Linked DNA regions of Homo sapiens. The protein of the gene in region 1 purifies or fractionates together with the protein of each later gene. This does not show direct contact. Each region holds a gene or a part of one and is shown on either strand. Other genes may lie near its edges.

What was found. Proteins that work in one complex are often made in the same cells at the same time.
Region 2: the proteins of RNF44 (region 1) and BTNL3 purify together in Homo sapiens (affinity purification with mass spectrometry; one large-scale study listed by BioGRID and IntAct). This does not show direct contact.

The regions. Positions count from the first base shown.
Region 1 is NC_000005.10:176,534,603-176,538,848, forward strand, and holds the start of RNF44 (RING finger protein 44), read right to left. Parts: upstream 2,801-4,246; 5' UTR 2,338-2,800; intron 2,047-2,337; exon of another isoform or gene 1,861-2,046; intron 1-1,860.
Region 2 is NC_000005.10:180,991,846-180,995,345, reverse strand, and holds part of BTNL3 (butyrophilin-like protein 3 precursor), read right to left. Parts: intron 2,534-3,500; coding exon 2,186-2,533; intron 1-2,185.

The DNA.
Region 1 (4,246 bases):
GTTTAACAAATTCCCCAGAAGTTGTCACAGCACAGCTAGATTTGGGAATCTCTACCCTAGCTAACCTCAGAAAGCTGGGGAGCCCATAGTTCTGCTGGTGCAGAACAGTCACCATAATAACCATGCTGTTTCCCCGGCGCCAACTTGGTGAGTCCTCCCAGCAACACTGGCAGGTCAGGACACCAAGGCTCAGAGAGGTGAGGTCCAAGGCCAGTCAGCTGGAATCGTGAGTGCGCAGGTGCATGACCTAAGCAGTCTGGCCATAAAGCACCCATGACTAGCCACCAAGCCAGCAGCCTTGACTGCTCCTCTTATGTCAGGATGTCTTGCAGATGGCTGAGTAGTGCCAGGCCCAAGGCACTCCTGCAGAGGCCCAGGCCTGTGGGTGTCTGCTCTGTGGCCAGCCCCCTACAAAGGCACCCACTCCCCAGGGCAGGGAAGGTGGTAAGGAGCTGTGAAAGCAAGCCAGGAGACAGAAGGGCCTCCAGCCGTGGGTAAGAATGTCAGCCCTCACAGACTCACACATGACAGTGACTTCTAGCGAGATTCTTGCCTACAGACCGTGGGCAAGGGCTTCCCCTCCCGAGCCTCAGTATCTTCATCTGTAAAATGGGAACAGCCCAATAACTACCTCCCAGTTTCCCATCAAGGACTGCTCCAAGGCAACAGCAGAAGCAACTTGTAAAGTTTGAACTTAGCTTGGGTGTGAATGATCATTATTAGCGAATACGACACGCTGACCTCCATTTCCAACCTCAAGCAGAGCTTGAAGGGTGCCACTTCCGGGGCAGCAGGCAGATATGCCACTCTAGGGGAATACCTCAGCTGGTAAGAGTGGATCCTGGTTCTTTAAGCCCTGCCAGGAACAGGGGTGGCGTAGAAGGGTTACACCCACTTCATGGCTGAGAAAACTGGAGCCGAGAGAAAGGAAGTAAGTTACTCTAGGCCACAAGACCAGAGAGAACGGAATTGGTCCTAGTTGGCCTCCTAGGCCCAAACTCCCCCAAGCCATAACTCCTGTGGCATCAGTAGCTGGAGGAAATCACCTAATCCCGAGTCTCCAAGCCATACAGGAGGCTGGGAGAGCACTCTCTTTCAGGCACCCATCTTTAGCTCTGTAGTACAGAGAAGCAAGCAAGGCCCAGAGTTGGAGCTAGCAACTTGCTCAAGGTCAAATAGCAAGGGTGGCCAGGTGGCCTCCCCTAACAACTGCTCTGCCCGTCCACATCTCCATGCTGTCCTATCACGGAGCTCTGTGTGAACGGGTCTTGAGAGTCCCGTCGCTGAGCCCCGTCCGCCCCAGGCACGCAATGCATTTTGCAGTTAACATAACCCCCCACACCCACCCATGAGAGCCGGCCAACCCCTTAAGTCCAGTGCCCCAAGCACCTACCCTGACCTTGGTCTAAGAGCCCCAGGGATCTGTTTGCAGGAAGAGACACTCCCTTTTGCAGATAAAAACAAAGTCAGACCCTGGGGGCATGAGCAGACTCAGCCAGGAAGAGAAGCCCCCCTTCCTACTTCCCCACACCCCACCCGAAACAAGCAGGCTCTGCCCAGCGCAAGCAGAGCTTCCCAACGTGTGGTGCCTGGAGGCCGCTGAGGGCCGGACCACCAGACTAGGAGAGAAGACTCCCTAGTGACCTTGGTCAAGGAAATCCCTTTGCTTCTGAGCGCCTCAGTTGGCACAGCTATAAAATGGGGGTGGAAATCTTTCCTTCCCACAGCGCCCAAATAAAACCAGAAGAGTCCAGAAGAAACCAGGTGGTCACACTAGTGGGGGAGGAAACCAGGGTCCTGGGGAAGGGGGGGCTCCCCAACGCGGGCCAAGTGCACGCTGTGGGGCTCTGGGAAGCTTACCCAGCCACCCCTCCCCAGGCATAGTGCTGGGGGGCCGAGGCGCGGACACAGCCCCGAGAGGGGCCTCCCTCGTCCGCTTCCTACTCTTTTGCGCCGCTCTCGGAGGGACACCGGGGGCGGGAGGCGAGACTGCAGCGCAGGGGCCAGAACGCTGCGACTTTAAGAGCCGAGGATCCCGGACCATGTGCTCGGCGTGAGACAAAAGCAACAACAAAGGAAGTGGCGGCCGCAGGGGGAGGGGGGCGGCTCCTTCCTCTCCAACCGCAGCGCTCAGCTGCAGGAGAGGGGAGATACGGCCCGGCCACGGGGGGCCTTGGGGGGGGTTCCTGATCCCTGGGGTCTCGCTGCCCGCAGTCTGGACCGCCCGTGATTAACCCCTACGGAGCCACCTAGATCACGGCCCCCATTCCCAGGGGAGGGGAACAGAAGGTCCATGGGTGGGGGAATAGGAAGTTGGGGGCCCTGGCACCGACTCACCTTTGGCCGCCCGGCCACACGTTGACTCCTTTGTTCCCGATCTAGGACGGCCAAACTGGGCAGGGGGCGGGGGAGGGGGGGGGTGCCTGTCTGGATCCTTTAAGAGCTCCCGCCCTGCGGAACAATGTGCTCCCCTCCCCACCCCCGGGTCCGGGGGCAGCCCGGCTCCTTCCGGGGCCTCTCTCTTTGTTGTCCGCCCGACGGCGTCTGCCTCGCGAGGCCCACGCGCGATCAGTCTCTCTCGGCCCAGGCCCTCAGGGAGCGGGAGGCGGCGCAGGACGCAGCTGGGTCTGCGCGGCAGCCGGCGGCTGGCCCTTTAAGAACTGTCCGCGGCGGCAGCGGAATGTAACAAACCCCACATTTGATTCACAACATTCGAAGCGGCGGGGTCGCGCGCCAGACGGGAGGGGGCTCGCGGGGGCGCGCCGGGAGGCTCCGGCAAACAGTAGCCCGCTGCAAGCCCGCAGGGGCCCCGCCCCGCGCCGGGAGCTCCGCCCTGAGAGCCAATCACTCGCCGCGACCACGCACGTGACTAGTGGGCCACCATCTTGAATTTTTTTAACCTCCTCCTCGCCCCCACCTTCGCACTTAAAGGGACCGCAGCCATAGTCAAAAGCAAGGGGCGGGGCCGCATATCCTGACATAAAGATGGGGAGACCCCAGGGTGGGCAAAACCGATCGGCTGCAACTCGAACTTGCTATGCAAACTCGCTAACTACTCGCGCCTCTGAGGCTCAGTTTCCCTGCCGAAGAAATGGGTCCCGCCAGGAGAACCGGCAGTACGGACTTACTGTGTCATGGTCCCCTCCTCGGGGACAGGGTGCCGCCTGAGATACTGAAGTGCAATGGGTCTGACCTCTGACGGGGCGAGAGCGGCCCAAGTGGTTATGCTGGCTCTAACAACCCTGGGCCGGCCACCTTCCCGGAGATGACGTCACCCCCAAGAGCTGCAGCACCGCGCTGACATCATGGCCCGGCCGCCCCACTTCTCCTTGTTTATACTACACGGCGTCTTTAAAAAGCTGGTACGGCCCAGATTGCCCAACAGACCAATGGCGGACCACCCATGCAAACGAGCTAACGTCTGCCGGGCAAGGAGATTGGCCCTGCTCGCGCTGACGTCACAGAGACATTTAACCGCCACGCCCCCAGCGTGGCGGTGGAGGAAGAGAGGCGGGGAACAGGTTGTAGTTTAAAGCAAAAGTGCAGGCGCTGGGCGCTCTAGCTGCTAGGCTGGGCTTGAGAGTTTGGTGTCCCCGCGGAGACCTCCCTAGCCAGGGAAACTGGGAACTAAGCCCAGTGAAGCGTCTATACTTTAGTTTTCTATTCCTCTCAGCAGCTATGAGACGGAGGGATTACTATAGCCAGTTCATTTTACAGATGGGGAAAGTGAGGGCCTTCCCTTACTCCAGATCACACAACTAGAAGTGTGGCGGAGCAGGAGTGTGAACCTAATCCAAAGCCGAGCCTCGTTCTCCTTTGCCTCGAAGCCCACCCACCCGGGCAAAATTTATACAAAATGGGGTATTACCTCCACCACAATTATATAAGCAGAAAATCAGTAATTTGCTAAATATCCAAGAGCTGGAACAGGTCGAATAATGAATATTGGGTGCATGCATATAATCAATAACGACTCTTGGGCAGTTACCACAAAGAGGCAGCTGGAGGCGACACGGGGCTATCTCCAAGACAGCCATAAACAAGGCGCCAATGCAAAATGTTAACATCTGTTAACCTGTGTGGTGGGCCATGGGGCAGGGGGATGGGGGGCTCATTTTCTATGCTGCTTTGGTATATTTCGTAATCCTAAATTTTATATAAAAATTGAAACCAAGATGCTGAACAGTTCTAACAGTATGTATCAGGTTTCTTTAATTGGACATATGCCACATCTGCATATATTTCT
Region 2 (3,500 bases), 4.5 Mb from region 1:
TTACCCATCATACCAAGAACCAATTAAATATCAACTTGAATGAAAATAGACAATCATGTGATTGCCAAGACCAACATGAATAGCTATTATTAAAATGTTTCAAAAAGCAATTATGAATTCTCTCAAAAAATTTAAAAAACAAAAACCATAGATGTTATAAAAAACAAATCAGAAGTAATATAACAGAAAAAAATGCAAAAACAAAAACTAACTGGGTAGCTTCAATGCTAGAGTGGAGATGACAGAAAATAAAATTATTGGCCTGGCATGGTGGCTCAGGCCTGTAATCCCAGCACTTTGGGAGGCCAAGGCGGGTGGATCATGAGATCAGGAGATCAAGACCATCCTGGTTAACACGGTGAAACCCCGTCTCTACTAAAAATACAAAAAAAATTAGCCGGGCGTGGTGGCAGGTGCCTGTAGTTCCAGCTACTCCGGAGGCTGAGGCAGGAGAATGGCGTGAACCCGGAAGGCAGAGCTTGCAGTGAGCGAGATTGCACCACTGCACTCTATCCAGCCTGGGCGACAGAGCGAGACTCCATCTCATAAAAAAAAAAAAAAAATTATTGAACTCCAGGATACAACAATGAAACTTAACCAGCATGAAAAGAGAGGAAAATATTTTTTTAAAGGGAAAAACAGATCCTCAAGGACCTATGAGACAATAACAAAATATCAACATTTATATCATCATAGTCCCAGAAGGAGAGGAGAAAGAGAGAGAGCTGAAAGAGTATTTAAAGAAATGATGGCTGATCTAATCAAATGAGGTGAAAGTCATGAAACTACAGATTCAAGAAGCTGAGAGCACACCAAATAGGAGAAATGTAAAGAAACCCATGCCTTGATAGATCATAATTAAATTTCTGAAAATAAAGAAAACACCAATGACAGCAGATTTTTCGTGAGAAATCTTCAAGGCCAGAAAGAAGTAGCACATTTTTCAACTGCTGAAAGAAAATAACCATCAAGAAACTCAGAAATTCTATATCTGGCAAAACCATTATTCACAAATAAAGAGGAAATCTTTTGCATATTTATTCTCAGATAAACAAAAACTAAGAGAATTTGTCACTAGCAGACCTATCCTAAAAGGATGGCTGGAGGAAATTCTTCAAACAGAAAGGAAATGATAAAAGAAAGAATCTTGGAATATTAGGAAAGAAGAAAAGCAATAGAAAAAGAAGAATAAGGAAAACTACAATAGATTTTCCATTTTATTAGTGTTTAACAATCACATATGTGCTGGGTGTGGTGGCTCACACCTGTAATCCCAGCATTTTGGGAGCCCAAGGCAGGGGATCATTTGAGGCCAGGAGTTTGAGACCAGCTGGCCAACATGGCAGAACCCCATCTCTACTAAAAATACAAAAAAAAATTAGCTGGGTGTGGTGGCGCATGCCTGTAATCTGAGCTACTCAGGAGGCTGAGGTACAAGAGTCACTTGAATCCAGGAGGTGGAGGTTGCAGTGAGCTGAGATCACACCACTGCACTCCAGCCTGGGTGACGGGACAAGACTGTCTCAAAGAAAAATAAAAAATAAAAAATAAAAATGAAAATTATATATGATGGTTTAAACAGAAATTAAGTCACTATCTGATATAGTGCTTATGTATATAGAAGAAATACTCAAGGCAATGTTATTTTTAAATTGTGGAGTTTGAAGGGCTCTGAATGAAAATGAAGTTTCCACACTTCAAAGTGGTAAAATGTTGATATAGTAGATTGTGATAAATTATATATGAATATCATAACACCTAAAGCAGCACCTAAGAAAACACTACAAAATGTTATACTAAAAAAAGACTAACAATAAGTTGTGATGGAATCCTAAAAAAAGTTTAGTAACACACAAGAAGTCAAGAAAAAAGAAGAAAATAAAAGAAATTGAAATATGACAGGCATTATCACTCTCATTTCACCAACATTGGGAGTGGCTTTCCTCTGTATCCTGTCAGGTGGTGGCAGGTGCAGGTGGCTGTCTTCTGCATCATGATCCCACCTGTGTGATGGCAGGGCCAGGCTCATCTCCAGAAACCTCAGGTCAGTGATCCCCACCGAAGCCTTTTTACATCATGTCAGAATCTGGAAAGTCTGTTTTATTTCATTATCTGAAATACTTTTAAGAGCTGATAATGGTAGCATGACTTTACAAGACAACTCAGTCATAAATAAACAACTGACCTGCCACCCGCAGCTCCCAGGTGGCCTCCTCATCGTAAATCTGGGAACTGAACCAGCACCCATACAGGCCGATGTCCGAGGGAGTGATGTTTTTTAGCCTTAGAGAGACACGCCCCCCTGCAATGGAGTCCTTCACAAACTCAGTTCTCCCTCGATACTGTGGCATCTGCTTAGATTCCCAGTCTTCCCCATCTCTGTAGAGGTGGACCACAGCATGGAACTGATTCCTGAAGAACCGCACTTCCATAGCCTCTGCACTGGTCTCAGGAAAGAGGGAGCAGGAGAACACGGCGTCCTCCCCCACCAAGGCCTGGACAAACTTGCCCGGTCCAGTGACTTGCCACTGTCCTATAGGAGGAAACATAACAGACAACTGAGCAAAATCCACTTGAGTCCTTCTCAGGGCTCTGGTGGGTGGAGAAGTGTGGGGTATGGGGTGGGGGATCCATCAGTCTTCTTTCTAAACCTGATGACTTGCATTTGCACATCTTACACTTGCGAGAATGCTTCCATGTCAGTTACTTCACTCGGTTCTCACACACATCTCATGTGAGATGAGGTGAGGTATGTGCTATCAATATTCCCACATTCAACATGAGGAAACCCTGTCTCTGGGGATGAGTTATTCAGGGGCCTGAGAGGCACCTTCCAAATGCAGACTCCCTGACTGGAGGAGAATCTATCTCCACGTGCTCTCCTCTCTGCCCATCTGCTTAATGAACACTCACACCACCCCCTTTGCATCTTCTATGCTAAAAACCTTTTTTAATGACCCAGGAGGGGAGTAAGTGGCCATAAAATATCGAATTTGGGAAAATTTATTTCCTTCAAATAGATGATTACATCTTGTAAATGTTTTATGGATACAAGAAAGGAATATATATTCTCCGCTGAAGCACATTTATTTGTGCTTCTTTTTTTTAAGTAGACTTCTGCCATATTCTGAAGGACATGGTGTGACACAGTGAGGAGATTTTGTAGTTTTTATTTCAGAGATTTGCCCTTTAGTGCACTGATGTTGTGACATATCTTTTCCATGACACCTACATTTTACTCCAGGTAATAATTTTATGTTTTTCCACTTTATTATTTCGTGCTTGAATAGTACTTCGTCTAGCAAAAGTTTGTCCAAGCCACAGCCTGTGGGCTGCATGAGACTCAGGACGGCTTTGAATACGGTCCAACACAAATTCTTAAACTTTCTTAAAACATTATAAGATTTTTTGTGATTTTTTTTCATTCATTAGTTATCGTTAGTGTTAGTTCTTCTTTCAATATGGCCCAGGGAAGGCAAAAGATTGGACACCCCCACTCT